Linked DNA regions of Homo sapiens: all the other regions are linked to region 3. Evidence: fine-mapped expression QTL. A gene starts in region 3. Each other region holds a variant in brackets. All regions are shown on one strand. Distances are from middle to middle.

The links. PIP is the estimated chance that this variant, and not a neighbour inherited with it, causes the effect.
Region 1: its variant is the best candidate, but not a certain one, in a credible set for the expression of ECM1 in visceral fat (GTEx, PIP 0.80).
Region 2: its variant is the best candidate, but not a certain one, in a credible set for the expression of ECM1 in sun-exposed skin (GTEx, PIP 0.82).

What each region holds. Positions count from the first base shown.
Region 1 is chr1:150,539,208-150,544,575 of GRCh38, forward strand. No RefSeq gene overlaps it. Among named protein-coding and RNA genes, the nearest start is that of ADAMTSL4, 7.5 kb to the right of the region's middle. RefSeq lists enhancers at 4,099-4,599, 4,600-5,100. The variant C/T (reference allele first, on the strand shown) is at 3,064.
Region 2 is chr1:150,447,973-150,453,340 of GRCh38, forward strand. All of the region lies in intron 7 of RPRD2 (regulation of nuclear pre-mRNA domain containing 2), which reads left to right. Among named protein-coding and RNA genes, the nearest start is that of TARS2, 37 kb to the right of the region's middle. The variant G/A (reference allele first, on the strand shown) is at 3,129.
Region 3 is chr1:150,505,596-150,510,963 of GRCh38, forward strand. ECM1 (extracellular matrix protein 1) reads left to right here and starts at 2,514. Exons shown (of 10, transcript NM_004425.4): 1 at 2,514-2,684; 2 at 3,936-3,986; 3 at 4,066-4,167; 4 at 4,327-4,407; 5 at 4,507-4,587; 6 at 5,281-5,368. The coding sequence starts at 2,615. TARS2 (threonyl-tRNA synthetase 2, mitochondrial) reads left to right here. Exons shown (of 18, transcript NM_025150.5): 17 at 1-110; 18 at 1,321-2,007. The coding sequence ends at 1,469. RefSeq lists an enhancer at 4,899-5,368.

The sequences.
Region 1 (5,368 bases), 34 kb after region 3:
TGCACAACATAGTAAGACTCCGTCTCTACAAAAATTTTTTTTAATTAGCCGGACGTGGTTGTGCACACCTTATAGTCCCAGCTACTCAGAAAGCTGAGGCAGAAGGATTGCATGAGCCCCAGAGTTTGAGGCTGCAGTGAGCTATGATCACACCACTGCACTCCAGCCTGGGCAACAGAGTGAGATCCTGTCTCAAAAAAAAAAAAAAAAATGAGAAAGAAGAAAGAAAGAAAGGGCCAGGCATGATGGCTCATGCCTGTAATCCCAACACTTTGGGAGGCTGAGGTGGGTGGATCACTTGAGGTCAGGAGTTCAAGACTAGCCTGACCAAAATGGTGAAACCCCGTCTCTACTAAAACTACAAAAATTAGCTGGATGTGGTGGCAGGCTCCTGTAATCCCAGCTACTACGAGGCAGGAGAATGGCTTGAACCTGGGAGGTGGAGGTTGCAGTGAGCTGAGACTGCACCACTGCACTCCAGCCTGGGCGACAGAGCAAGGCTCCATCAAGAAAGAAGGAAAGAAGAAAGAGAGAGAGAGAAAGAAAAGAAAAGAAAGAGAGGAAGGAAAGAAGGAAGGGAGGGAAGTGGAGGGAGGGAGAGAGAGAGAAAGAAAAGAAAGAAGGGAGGGAGGGAGGAAGGAAGGAAGGAAGGCAGGCAGGCAGGCAGGCAGGCACGAAGGCCCGGCACGGTGGCTCACTCCTGTAATCCTAGCAGTTTGGGAGGCCCAGGCAGGTGGATCACCTGAGATCAGGAGTTCGAGACCAGCCTGGCCAACATGGGGAAACCCCATCTCTACTAAAAATACAAAAAATTAGCTGGGCATGGTGGTGCACACCTGTAATCCGAGCGACTCAGGAGGCTGAGGCAGGAAAATCACTTGAACCCGGGAGGTGGAGCTTAAAGTGAGCCGAGATCGCGCCATTGCACTCCAGCCTGGGTGACACAGCGAGACTCCAAAAAAAAAAAAAAAAAAAGAAAAGAAAGAGGGAGAAGGGGGTGAAAGAGAGAGAGAGAAAGCAAGAAAGGGAAGAAGAGAGAGAGAGAGAGAGATAGAAGGAAGGAAGGAGAGAGAGAAAGAAAAAGAAAAGAGATAAGAGAGGGGCCAGGCGTGGTGGCTCATGCCTGTAATCCCAGCACTTTGGGAGGCTGAAATGGGCAGACCACCTGAGGTCAGGAGTTCGAGGCCAGCCTGACGAACATGGTGAAACCCTGTCTCTACTAAAAATACAAAAATTAGCTGGGCATGGTGGTGGGTGCCTGTCATTCCAGCTACTTGGGAGGCTGAGGCAGGAGAATCGCTTGAACCCAGGAGGTGGAGGTTGCAGTGAGCCCTGAGACCACACCATTGCACTCCAGCCTGGGTGACTGGAGCAAGACTCCATCTAAAAAAAAGAAGAAAAAAGAAGGCCAGGCGTGGTGGCTTATGACTGTAATCCCAGCATTTTGGGAGGCCAAGGTGAGTGGATCACGAGGTCAAGAGATCGAGACCATCCTGGCCAACATGGTGAAACCCTGTCTCTACTAAAAATACAAAAAAAATTAGCTAGGCATGGTGGCGTGTACCTGTAGTCCCAGCTACTCGGGAGGCTGAGGCAGGAAAATCGCTTGAACCCAGGAGGCGGAGGTTGCAGTGAGCTGAGATCATGCCACTGCACTCCAGCCTGACAACACAGCGAGACTCCATCTCAAAAAAAAAAAAAAAAAAAAAAAGCCAGGTGCAGTGGCTCACACCTGTAATCCCAGCACTTTGGGAGGCCGAGGCAGGTGGATCACAAAGTCAAGAGATCAAGATCAGCCTGACCAACATGGAGAAACCCTGTCTCTACGAAAAATACAAAATTAGCTGGACATAGTGGTGCAGGCCTGTAATCCCAACTACTCGGGAGGCTGAGGCAGGATAATCGCTTGAATCAGGGAGGCAGAGGTTGCAGTGAGCTGAGATCATGCCATCGCATTCCAGCCTGGGCAACAAGAGCAAAACTCCGTCTCAAAAAAAAAACAGAAAGAAAGAAAAGAAAGGGCCGGCACGGTGGCTCACGCCTATAATCCCAGCACTTTGGGGGCGGATCACCTGAGGTCAGGAGTTCGACACCAGCCTGGCTAACATGGTGAAACCCCGTCTCTACTAAAAATACAAAAATTAGCCGGGCATGGTGGTGGGTGCCTGTAATTCCAGCTACTTGGGAGGCTGAGGCAGGAGAATCGCTTGAACCCAGGAGGTGGAGGTTGCAGTGAGCCCTGAGATCACACCATTGCACTCCAGCCTGAGTGACTGGAGCAAGACTCCATCTAAAAAAAAGAAGAAAAAAGGCCAGGCGTGGTGGCTTATGACTGTAATCCCAGCATTTTGGGAGGCCAAGGCGAGTGGATCACGAGGTCAAGAGATCGAGACCATCCTGGCCAACGTGGTGAAACCCTGTCTCTACTAAAAATACAAAAAAAATTAGCTGGGCATGGTGGCGTGCACCTGTAGTCCCAGCTACTCGGGAGGCTGAGGCAGGAAAATCGCTTGAACCCAGGAGGCGGAGGTTGCAGTGAGCTGAGATCACGCCACTGCACTCCAGCCTGACAACACAGCGAGACTCCATCTCAAAAAAAAAAAAAAAAAAAGCCAGGTGCAGTGGCTCACACCTGTAATCCCAGCACTTTGGGAGGCCGAGGCAGGTGGATCACAAAGTCAAGAGATCAAGATCAGCCTGACCAACATGGAGAAACCCTGTCTCTACGAAAAATACAAAATTAGCTGGACGTAGTGGTGCAGGCCTGTAATCCCAACTACTCGGGAGGCTGAGGCAGGATAATCGCTTGAATCAGGGAGGCAGAGGTTGCAGTGAGCTGAGATCATGCCATCGCATTCCAGCCTGGGCAACAAGAGCAAAACTCCGTCTCAAAAAAAAAAAGCAGAAAGAAAGAAAAGAAAGGGCCGGCGCGGTGGCTCACGCCTATAATCCCAGCACTTTGGGGGCGGATCACCTGAGGTCAGGAGTTCGACACCAGCCTGGCTAACATGGTGAAACCCCGTTTCTACTAAAAATACAAAAAATTAGCCAGGCGTGTTGGTG[C/T]ACGCCTGTAATCCCAGCTACTCAGGAGGCTGAGGGAGGAGAATCACTTGAACTTGGGAGGCAGAGGTTGTAGTGAGCCGAGATTGCGCCACTGCACCCAGCTTGGGCAACAAGAGTGAAACTCTGTCTCAAAAAAAAAAGGAAAAGAAAGAAAAAGGAGAGAAAGAAAGAAAGAAGAAAGAAAAAAAGAAAGAAAGAGAAAAGAGGGGAGGAGAGAAGAAAGAAAAGAAAGGTCCTGTACAGATGGCAGCATCATTTTTTCCCCCAATTCCTGACACAGAGGCTGAGCCATTATTGTCAACCTACTGTGAAAAGACATTATGTCCTCTCTGTCACTGGCAAATCCTGACCAGAGTCTTGTTGGACTCTGAGAGCATCCCCAGCAAAGAACTCTGAGCATCACAGAGGAGCAGCATGAAGTCTTCCTTTAATGCAGTCTTGATCTACCTAGAACATCAGCTACAAAATAATTTTGCACAGCATCATTAACAATAGTGCTGCCTTCGTTTTGTATATGACTCCACAGCTTTCATACATATTCCATCAGTTGTATTTGGGGTTTTATGAAAACCTGTGAAGTTGGCCAGGCACGGTGGCTCACGCCTGTAATCCCAGCACTTTGGGAGGCTGACGCGGGTGGATCACCTGAGGCCAGGAGTTCGAGACTAGCCTGGCCAACATGGTGAAACCCCGTCTCTACTAAAAATACAAAAATTAGCTGGTGGTGGCACATATTTGGGAGGCTGAGGCGGGAGAATTGCTTGAACCTGGGAGGCGAGGTTGCAGTGAGCCGAGATCCTGCCATTGCACTCCAACCTGGGCGACAGAGCGAGACTCCATCTCAAAAAAAAAAAAGAAAAAAATATAGGAGTATATCTTTTTTTGTTGTTTTTGTTTTTTGTTTTGAGATGGAGTCTCGCTCTGTTGCCCAGGCTGGAGTATAGTGGCGTGATCTCGGCTCACTGCAACCTCCGCCTCCCAGGTTCAAGCAATTCTCTTGCCTCAGCCTCCCGAGTAGCTGGGACTATAGATGCCCTCAACCATGCCCAGCTAATTTTTGTATTTTTAGTAGAGACGAGGTTTCACTATGTTGGCCAGGCTGGTCCTGAACTCCTGACCTCGTGATCCACCCGCCTTGGCCTCCCAAAGTGCTGGAATTACAGGCGTGAGCCACCGCGCCTGACCGAGTATATCTTTTTTAAAAAAGAAAATAAATAAAGAAATAAAGTCTACATAGCGGTGACTGGGAGACCAGAATATCCCATTCATGTCTTGGTCCTCATCGTACCAAATGGATCACATCCTGTTTCTTCATCATTTCATCAGGTGCAAGGCAGTTGGGCCGTGATGGGGCAGGACAACAACCAGAAAATGCTGGAATGTGGCCAGAGCTGAGGCAGTGCTCACCCCACACACATTCATTAAATGCCTACTGTGTGCAGAGTGAGGTGGTGAATACAAAGGTAAACACAGCAAGGTGGTCTCACCCTCCAGTCCCTGGAAGAGCACAGGTCACCACTGGCTGCTCTCATAGCAGCTGCCTAGTATGGGCGGCTGCGTCAAGCCAAAGCGGAATGGTCAGAAGAACAGCATCAGTGAGACAAAACAGTGGAGACAGCATGACAGGACACGGACTCAACGGCTGGAAGCCAGCCTGGCGCGCAGCAATTGGGAATGGGGTGTCTGTTTTGGAACAAAGGAGTTGAGCAACCATGATTCGGAGAGGCAGAAAAGCAAACACCAGGCTTTCCGAAAATGGTTGCTATGACCACAAACCTAAAGACAGACAGCTGCATGTTCATTTCTGGGCCCCAACTGTACATATTATTGGTATTAGCATCAGCATTATCTTGGAATAGGGACAACGTCTTATATGAGGCATTCATTCAAAATGTTATTTAATTTATAAAACTTCCTTATGCTACTGCCAGGGGAAAAAATTATTAAGTAAATTCAGCTAAATTTCTGGAAATTTTATTTGCATACAATGTATACAAATAACAGCGCCTAATTTAGAATCCTGGCTCTCTCACTTTCTAGCTGAGAGATTAGAGACAAATTAGTGGATTTGTCTTTGTGTCTTTGTTTGCAAATCTGTAAATGGTGTAACAGTCTCCACCTCACAGGGTTACAATGAGGACAGAGTGAGGTAATGTGTGTAAAGCTCTTCTAACAGCCCGGTCGGGGGCACAAAGTAAGTGCTATATACATGTTAGCTATATTATTATTATTAAATCAGTATGTTGAGCTCAAAGTCAGACCAATGTCAGCCTGTCCCCTCTTTTTTTCCTTATCTGTCCAATCT
Region 2 (5,368 bases), 58 kb before region 3:
CTTCTCCCAGTTTTGTTGTGTAACTGTTTTAAATCTGTTATCTATAAATTAAAGGACTGTATTTACTATTTTTTGACCATTAACACTAGACTCCCTACTTCGTAAAATTTGGTTAGTAGCATCCCTATTTGCTCCCATTAGTTTTCATCTATCCCTTCAATTTTCCAGCTTCAATCAACTATATTTACTTTTTGTTGTTGTTGTCTTTTTTTTGAGATGGAGTCTCGCTTTGTCACCCAGGCTGGAGTGCAGTGGCGCACTCTTGGCCTCACTGCAACCTCCACCTCCTAGGTTCAAGTGATTCTCCTGCCTCAGCCTCCCGAGTAGCTGGGATTACAGGTGCATGCCATCATGCCTGGCTAATTTTTGGTTTTTTAGTAGAGACAGGGTTTCACCATGTTGGACAGGCTCGTCTTGAACTCCTGGCCTCAAGTGATCCACCCACCTCAGCCTCTCAAAGTGATGGGACCATAGGCATCAGCCACCACACCCAGCCAACTATATTTACTTCTGTATTGTCAAAGTTGGTAATATTTACATTCTGTTCTATAATCATACTTAATTACTCTTTGCTACTCTAAAGGTTGAAAAACAATTTTTCAAAAAGCTTACATTATAACTCTGTAAACATTGTTCATTGCAAGGTTTTGTGGTAACTATAGTTGTACTAGAAGTTTTGTTTTTTCCTAGAGTTTTGTTTTCTCTTTTATTGTTTGCCCTTGCATAGCCTTTCTAAATTCTCCATCACACCAGCTATTCTGAATTCCCTTTTCCCCCTGGGTCCTCCCTACCTGAATTTTCATTTTCCGTCCCCAGTTTAGGTTATTCCCTAAGTCTTAGGCTAAAATAGCTCTTAACTGTTGTCCTGAGTTGAGTCCTCTATTTTCCAGATTCCATGTCTTTTTTTCTTGGTTTCTATCATTGTACTGGAGCAGTCTCAAGTAATTTCCCAAAAAAAAAGTGTTTGTGAGAGGGAAATTTTGTCTGACCTTATATTTAGAAATGTCTTAGGCTGGGCACAGTGGCTCATGCCTGTAATTCCAACACTTTGGGAGGCTGAGGTAGGAGGATCACTTGAGGCCAGGAGTTCAAGATTAGCCTGGGCAACATTGTGAGACCCTTCTATACATTAAAAGAAGAAAGAAAAGGAAAAATACATTAAAATGTCTTAGATCATTGATTTTCTCCCCCTGCCCAACCCCGAATTGGCTAATGGATAAGCAGGTTGATTTTCAGCTTTTAGGAAATGTATACATTTAATACAGTAAATTTCCTTCTAAGTTGCATCCCATGAGTTTTTATATTTAAGTATATCTTTTGCAAAGAGCATATAGTTGGATCTTGTTTTAGTTTTATTGTTATGTTTTGATCTAGTCTGAAAATCTTTGACTTTGCAGTGTTTAGTCTACTTATTGATATGCTTGGGTTTAAGTCTACCATCTTTCTATTTGTCCTATGTGTCCTTTTCTTTGTTACTCCTTTTTTGCTTTTTTTAATTAATCAAATAATTTTTAGATTTCTATTTTGTCTCCTGTTTTTGCTTGCATGTACTCTCTCTTCCTCTCTTCCTTTCTCCATCCCTCTTCCTCCCTCCTTTCCTCTCCCTCCTTCCTTCTTTCTCCCTCCTTCCATCTCCCAGATTTCACCTTTTTATAAGGATACCAGTCATATTAGATTAGGGCCCATCCTGATGACCTCACTTAACTTGATTACCTCTGTAGAAATCCTGTCTTCAAATAATTCTGGGGTACTAGGAGTGAGGACTTCAACATATGAGTCAGGGGGTGCAGAGATAGATAATTCACCCATAACAAATGGCTTCGTGTTTTTTATAAATTTTCAAAAATTCTCAGCTATTGATCTCAATTATTGTTACTGTTTCATCTCCCTCCTCTCCTCTTGGAACTCACATTAGTATGTATATTGGATCTCATTGTTGTGTTCCAAATGCCTTTTTTTATAGTCCTTTCTGAATTTTCCATCTTTTATTTCTCTTCTCTGCTTCCTTCTAGATATTCTACTAACTAGTCTTGTAATTCATTAATACTTTATTCTGTTGAATCTTATCTATGATTAAACCAAACCCATCTGTTCTTAGTTGGTTTACTTTTCAGTTCTAGAATTGCCACTGAATTTTTTTAAAGAAAGAGTTCAATTTTCTGGTAAAATTTATTCATCTTTTTAAATCTCACCATTATGAAAGATCTTAAGTCCAGTATGAAGACCTTTTTTTCCTGAATTATTTGAAAATAAGTTGCTTGTACCCCATTATCCAAAATGTTTTAGTGTGTATTTCCTACTGGACATACTCTTCTACATAACCATCAGGTGTATGTATGTATTTATTTATTTAGCCGGGTGCGGTGGCTCACGCCTGTAATCCCAGCACTTTAGGAGGCCGAGGTGGGTGGATCACGAGGTCAGGAGATCAAGACCATCCTGGCTAACACGGTGAAACCCCGTCTCTACTAAAAATTAAAAAAAATTAGGTGGGCGTGGTGGCGGGAGCCTGTAGTCCCACTACTCCGCAGGCTGAGGCAGGAGAATGACGTGAACCCAGGAGGCGGAGCTTGCAGTGAGCCGAGATCGCGCCACTGCACTCCAGCCTGGGCGACAGAGCAAGACTCCGTCTCAAAAAAAAAAAAAAAAAAAAAAGTTATTTATTTAGAGACGAGTCTCACTGTGTCACCCAGGCTAGAGTGCAGTGGCGCAATCTCGGCTCACTGCAACCCCCGCCTCCTGGGTTCAAGCGATTCTTCTGCCTCAGCCTCCCGAATAGGTGGAACTACAGGCGCCCACCACCACTTTTTGTATTTTTAGTAGAGATGGGGTTTCGCCATATTGGCCAGACTGGTCTCAAACTCCTGACCTCAGGTGATCCACCTGCCTCGGCCTCTTAAGGTGCTGGGATTACAGGCGTGAGCCACCGTGCCCCTCCAGGTGTAGTTATATAATCAGGAAATTAATTGATACTTTGACACACTTATAATCTAATCCTCAGAACCGATTCATATTGGCCAGTTTTTATAGGAAAAGATCCTATCCAGAATCACAAGTTGCATTCGGTTGTCATCTCTCTTTATTCTCCTTTGATCTGGAACAGTTTCTTAGCTTTCTCCTTGATTTTC[G/A]TGACCTAAATATGTTTGAAGATTACAAGTCAAATATTTTGTATAATGTTTCCCAGTTTGAGTTTATTTGATATTTCTTTGTGATCAGGTTGAGGTTATGCATCTTTAGAAGGAATATCACAGAAGTGATTCTGTGTTCTTCATGTTTCGTCTTGTCAGATGGCACACAAGTTTGGTTTATCTCACTACCTGTAATGTTCCCCTTGATATTCTGATTAATGTGGCATCTTCCAGGCTTGTCCATTATAAAGTTTTCCCTTGGTGATTGTTATGGGTTAAATTATGCACCCCAGGCCGGGCGCAGTGGCTCAAGCCTGTAATCCCAGCACTTTGGGAGGCCGAGGCAGGTGGATCACGAGGGCAGGAGATCGAGACCATCCTGGCTAACATCGTGAAACCCCGTCTCCACTAAAAAATACAAAAAATTAGCCGGGCGCAGTGGCAGGCACCTGTAGTCCCAGCTACTTGGGAGGCTGAGGCAGGAGAATGGCGTGAACCTGGGAGGCGGAGCTTGCAGGGAGCCGAGATCGCGCCACTGCACTCCAGCCTGGGAGACAGAGCAAGACTCCGTCTCAAAAAAAAAAAAAAAAAAATCGTCCACCCCAAAAAGATGTGTTGAAGCCCTAACCTTCAGTACATGTGAATGTGACCTTATTTGGAAATAGGGTCTTTGCTGATATAATCAAGTTAAAATGAGTTCACTGGGGTGGGCCTTAATCATCCGATATAACTGGTGTCCATATAAGAAGAGGGAAACTGGCTGGGTGCAATGGCTCACACCTGTAATCCCAGCACTTTGGGAGGCTGAGGCAGGCAGATCCCTTGAGGTCAGGAGTTCAAGACCAGCCTGGCCAATATGGTGAAACCCCGTCTATACTAAAAATAGGAAAAATTAGCCAGGCATGGTGGCGGGTGCCTGTAATCCCAGCTACTTGGGAGGCTGAGGCAGGAGAATCGCCTGAACCCAGGAGGCAGAGGTTGCAGTGAGCCGAGATCACACCATTGCACTCCAGCCTGGGCAAGAGAGCAAGACTCTGTCTCAAAAAAAAAAAAAAAAAAGAGAGAGAGAGAAACTGAGAAACTGGACAAAAGCACAGGGAGAACATCATGTGACAGCATAGGCAGATATTGAAGCCATGCAGCTACAAGCCAAAAACATCAAGGATTGATGGGCACCACCAGAAACCAGGAAATGGCAAGGAAGAATTCTGCCCAGTGTCAGAGAGAGCACAGCCTGCTGACATCTTAATTTTGGACCACTAGCCTTCAGAGACAATAAATTTCTGTTGTTTTAAGCCACTCATTTTGTAGTACTTAATTAACCACTGCCCTAAGAAACTAATATACCAATTAATGAATGTTTTGTGAGGAAGTATTTTGAAACTATGTAAATATCTTGTTCCTTACCAGACTTTCGATGTATTCATTTATTTATATGAATGGACTTGAATCCTATTTACTCACTGTTTTAATTCATTACTACTAATATTTACTTTGATGCTCAGTTTGACAAAGTTTTGGTCAATGTGAGCTCCTTTCTGTGTTCTTTTGACATATCCCCTTTTTTTTTTTTTTTTTTTTTTTTTGAGACGAACTTTCCACTCTTGTTGCTCAGGCTGGAGTGCAGTGGCACGATCTCGGCTCACTGCAACCTCCGCCTCCCAGGTTTAAGCAATTCTCCTACCTCAGCCTCCCAAGTAGCTGGGATTACAGGCATTCGCCACCACGCCTGCCTAATTTTATATTTTTAACAGTGATGGGGTTTCACCATGTTGGCCAGGCTGGTCTCAAACTCCTGACCTCAGGTGATCCGCCTGCCTCTGCCTCCCAAAGTGCTGAGATTACAGGCGTGAGCCACTGGCACCACTTTTTTACACTACTAATTACTTTTCTAACAGTGTAAAACCTTGCTCCCTTGTCTTCAATATATTTACTTTTTTTTTTTTTTTGGAGACGGAGCCTCGTGCTGTTGCCCAGGCTGGAGCGCGGTGGCACAATCTTGGTTCACTGCAACCTCTGTCTCCCGGGTTCAAGCGATTCTCCTGCCTCAGCCTCCTGAGTAGCTGGTACTACAGGCGCACACCACCACGCCCAGCTAATTTTTGTATTTTTAGTAGAGACGAGGTTTCACCATATTGGTCAAGCTGGTCTTGAACTCCTGACCTCATGATCTGTGCTCCTTGGCCTCCCAAAGTGCTGGGATTACAGGCGTGAGCCACCGCGCCTGGCCTCAGTGTTTT
Region 3 (5,368 bases):
GCAGAGCCTGCGGGCTGCAGGACTGGTCAGTGACCTGGATGCAGACTCTGGACTGACCCTCAGCCGGAGAATCCGCCGGGCCCAGCTTGCCCACTACAATTTTCAGTTTGGTAAGCTGAACCTCAGAGCCAATGTTCTCCCACCTGCCGTCTGCATTCTTGCTGTTAAGTTTACCAAGTCTGGTAATGCATATTTGGGTTAATTGGGGCTCATTACCTGAGCAGGTAGGAGCCAGGATTCAGGACACCTGACTCATTTGGGCCCTGTGTTCCTTCACATTGCCCTGCCCTCCCCATAACCACTTCTGACACTCAAAATAGTTTTCCTCTTTTTAACTCCACTCTAGCTGTTGGTGTCTGTTAGGTTAATTAACCAAGGGAGCATCAGAGAGAAAGGGACGGGAGGGTTAATACAGCGTTAATTACCCTTGTTTATTTTAGACCTAGATGGAATCAGCCCTAAGGGATGAGGAGAAAGGCCTTAGGGAGAAAATTCTGGCACTGCCATGCTCCCTTTTTCATTTTCCAGGGTTCAGGGCTCTATCTCAAAGGTGAGGAGCAGAAACTCCTCAGCCAGATTACCTGATTCTTGAGTTTTGCACACCCCACTCTCCCTACAAGCACCCAGAGCAAGCTGTGCTGCAATCCCAGGGACTTGTACATGGCCCCTTTCCCTCCCTTACCGCCCAGTCAGCCCCTGCATACATCCTCCTCAGCAGAGGCCCCTCACTCTGTGAATCCAGCCCTAACAGACACCAAGAGCCAGAGTGGGACTGATGAGAGGAAACTGTTCTAAGGGTCAGAGTGGTTGGGGGGAGGCGGGGCAGTGTGAAGGCCACACCACTCCTGCCACCTTCCACTTGCTCTAATACCCCCTTCAGACACGCGCGCGCACACACACACACACACACACACACACACAGTTTCTCTCTGTGGGGTTCTCATTGTTTGTCTTTCTCTGCTTGACTCTAATGTCTCTGACACACACACACACACACACACACACACACACAGTTTCTCTCTGTGGGGTTCTCAGTGTTTGTCTTTCTCTGCTTGACTCTTATGTCTCTGACCCTGGGGCTCTTGACCAGAAGCGATAAGGCCTGCGGGGACTGAAGCACTTCCTTGTCTCCTCAGGATGAGCAGGACTGGTCATTTAGTATTAGCAGACACAGCTGAATACTTCCTTTCTGTGAACCATATCTGGGCTCTGCTCCCACCCTTCCTAAAGATTTAGGTCTCTCAAGTTTCTGCAGAGCAAAAGAAACTGTTCCATGTGGGTGAATTTGCCCTGAGGTTCCCAAACTTCCTCTACCTGCAGTGGTTGGCCAGAAAGAGCAAAGTAAGAGAACAGTGAACATTCGGACTCGAGATAATCGTCGCCTTGGGGAGTGGGACTTGCCTGAGGCTGTGCAGCGACTGGTGGAGCTACAGAACACGAGGGTCCCAAATGCCGAAGAAATTTTCTGAGCCTTTGTACATAGATGAGGCAAAAACCTGCGAGTGCCATCAGCCTCCCTCACATGGGAGACCCCAACCCAGCTGACAATGTGGAGCCCCCAGAACTTCAGAACTGTGTGGAGGCACATGTCTGCTCTCCTGAAAAGAGACTTGGTTTGGGGACCCCACAAAAGGAGGGAAGCTGTAGCTGTTTGGATGTGAGGAGAATGAAACTACAAAAAAAAATAAATTGGGCCAGGCGCAGTGGCTCATGCCTGTAATCCCAGCACTCTGGGAGGCTGAGGCGGACGGATCATGAGGTCAGGAGATCAAGACCACCCTGGCTAACACGGTGAAACCCTGTCTCTACTAAAAATACAAAAAATTAGCCGGGCATGGTGGCACACGCCTGTAATCCCAGCTACTCAGGAGGCTGAGGCAGGAGAATCGCTTGAACCCGGGAGGTAGAGGTTGCAGTGAGCTGAGATTGCGCCACTGCACCCCCCTAGGCGACAGAGCGAGACTCTGTCTCTAAATAAATAAATAAATAAATAAATACAAACTGGAAGCTGCTGGTCATATGTCTTCATCTCTGACTCTGGAGAGGTGGGATAAAAGGATGTTCCACTTTGTCTCCCTCTTTTTTGTCCCAGAGAGTTAGGGAAATTGAAAAGGGACAGTCCAGACCTCACACTGGTAGGGGAGATCCCTTGGATAGGTTTCCTGCTCCCCGCTGTAAACTCCTTTGTGCCCTGTTTCCCCAACCCCAGTTCATGAGTTGGCAGATCCCCTCTCCACAGAAGGCAGCCTGTAGATGGAGAAACTGAGGCACAAACTAGGGGCTCAAACACCTCTTGCTCCTGGATTCTCTGAATCAGTTTCTCTTGAAGGTCATAAGAATGTTCTCCTCTAATCAGTCCCATTCTTCTCAATCCTCTGAGGAGGCTTCAGGGTGACTTTGGGAGGAGTGGCTTCCAGAGGAGGAGCAGCTGGGACTGAGTCATGGCAGGAAGCTGAGGAGGGCGGGAGATCACACCAGACAATTATAAAAGAAGAGCTGGTCCTGAAGCTCACAACCGTAACAGCCACCAGACAAGCTTCAGTGGCCGGCCCTTCACATCCAGACTTGCCTGAGAGGACCCACCTCTGAGTGTCCAGTGGTCAGTTGCCCCAGGATGGGGACCACAGCCAGAGCAGCCTTGGTCTTGACCTATTTGGCTGTTGCTTCTGCTGCCTCTGAGGGAGGTGAGTTGGGGGATCAGCACTTAGGAGGGGGTCTGGGCTTGCATGGCAGGGGTCTGGGTCCAGGCATCCCAGACGGCTCATCACTAGCAGAGTGATTCTCCGTTTGGCTTTCCTTTTCTGAGCAGGCCCAAAGTGGGCCTAGGCCAGTGGAGCCTTTAACCAAGGAGGCAGAGAGCAGGGGCACAGAAGGAGAGGGGTTCCTAGAAACTGCTGCCAAGAAACACAGAATCCCAGTCAAATAGACAACTGAGTGGGGGGTGGGTTCACAGAGTGAGGGTCTCCTGCTGATGAGGATGTAGGGAGGTGGCTGGTGGGAGAGGCAAGGGAGGGAAAAGGGGCCCCCAGGCTGCTCAAAACCGGATTGCTGGCCCAGCAAGCCTCGACTGACTCCCTGTCTGATTAGAGGAGTTGAGGGGTGTCCATCCACAGACCCACCCTCCATCCAGCACAAACACATTCTTTATCTGCTTTGATGCCTGAACAAAACAGGAACCCCTCAATGCTATGGGTGGAAACTAAGAAAAAAAGGAAAAGAAAAGGAAAAAAACCACCCAGGGCACTCCTGCAGGAAGCTGCTGAGGATGTCAGCAAATCTGTCCACTTCTCTGTGAAGCCCCATGCCATCATTCTTCCCAGCTCCTGGTCTTTTGTGTCTGCAGATCACCTACAAGTGACCCTTCCCTGTGCCTGTCCCAGTCCCCCAGGCCCTAAATTGAGACCTAAACTAAGGCGGAGCTGAGACTGGCTGAAGGGGAAGCACTCAACCTTCAGGAAGCCTCCTTAACCAAAGGCCTAAAGATGTTTCAAGGGCCTGGAGTAGGAGGGTGGGTGGAGGAGGTGGATTGGGTAGGCTCCAACCAGCTCAAGGTCCAGACTTTTTCCTCTGAAAGCTAGAGACGCATCCCAGCAGAGACTGGGGAGGACAACCCACAGCCCTGAGGGAAAGACTGGCAGAGGAAATGAGGGCCTCCCTCCCCAATCCCGTATGCCATACTCCCTTTAGGCCCAACCTCTGAGCCAGTAGAGGTGGAGCTATCAGACCGCCACAGGCTTTCTCAGAACCCAGCTGGTCATGTCTAGGTGTGTTGGGGCTGGGAGAGGATTAGGGGACACGGGGCAGGTGAATACAGAGGGGCATCTCGTGTCTTGCTTGTCTGTCCTACACTCTTGATCTCCACAGCCTCCCCATCCCTTGCTGAAGTCCAGGGAAGGCCCTCCCAGTGGCCCCTGACTTGCCCTTCTTCCCTCCAGGCTTCACGGCTACAGGACAGAGGCAGCTGAGGCCAGAGCACTTTCAAGAAGGTAAGAGTTTGGGGGAGCAGCATGGGATTGGGACTCCAGGAGGCACTGTGGGCTCTGATGTCTCCCCTCTTGCTTCTAGTTGGCTACGCAGCTCCCCCCTCCCCACCCCTATCCCGAAGCCTCCCCATGGATCACCCTGACTCCTCTCAGCATGGCCCTCCCTTTGAGGGACAGAGTCAAGGTAAGGTCACCATCCCATGCCCTCCTCAGTGACCCTCCAGGTTTCTAATCTGGCCTATATCCCACTTTTCAGGTGGAAAGGAGGGAAGAGGCCCTCGCCCCCACTCCCAGCCCTGGCTAGGAGAAAGGGTGGGCTGCTCACACATTCCCCCTTCTATAGTGCAGCCCCCTCCCTCTCAGGAGGCCACCCCTCTCCAACAGGAAAAGCTGCTACCTGCCCAACTCCCTGCTGAAAAGGAAGGTGAGCGCTTGCCCACCCTCCCTCACCTCTATCCCACTATGGATCCTGTTGACACCAGGCTGATCCCTGCTCCTTGGTGCCCTCACCCCTATCTTGCAGTGGGTCCCCCTCTCCCTCAGGAAGCTGTCCCCCTCCAAAAAGAGCTGCCCTCTCTCCAGCACCCCAATGAACAGAAGGAAGGTAAGCAGCTCCCTCTCTTCTTTACCCACCTTTACCTCATGGCCTTCCCCCAGAGCATGGGCTTCGGGGCAGACAAGACGGTGGGCTCTGCCACTCACCAGTTGTATAACCTTGGGTAAGTTACATACTTCTCCAAGCCTTTGTTTCTTCATCTGTAAAATTGAGGATATACCTGTTTTAGAAAGTTATGTGATTAGATGTGCAAAAATAGCATCTATTTTCACTTGCTTCTCTGCTGAGTTCTTCTTTGTGCATGTAAACTAGCCAGGCTTTCTCTGCTAGAGATGGCCATCCCAACATGGCTTTTGCTTACTCCTTCTACCCAGTAGACCCACCTCTTCCATATCAGGAGGAGATAATCATCCATTCCATGCCGAGAGAGGGTGAGTGACAGCTTTGGTCTGTCCATCCTCCTGCCTTAGTGCTCAGGACCCTGGGGAGAGGAGCAGGAAGCCCGAGCCTTGAGAAGCAGGAGGAGGTGGGGGCAGGCTGTGAGCTGACACCTTTCACACCTCGCTTCTCTTTTCCTTTCAGTTATTTTAAAAGGAAGAGCCACAAATTGTTCTTTCTCATTTCCACTATATCCTCCCAACCCTTTCTCCTCCACCCCAGATTCTTTCAATCCTCCCAGCTCATCCAGCCTTTGTGGGTTCCTTCACATGTCCCCGCTTCCCACTGTTTTCCCCATTCCAGGAACGCCAGCTCCATTTGGGGACCAGAGCCATCCAGAACCTGAGTCCTGGAATGCAGCCCAGCACTGCCAACAGGACCGGTCCCAAGG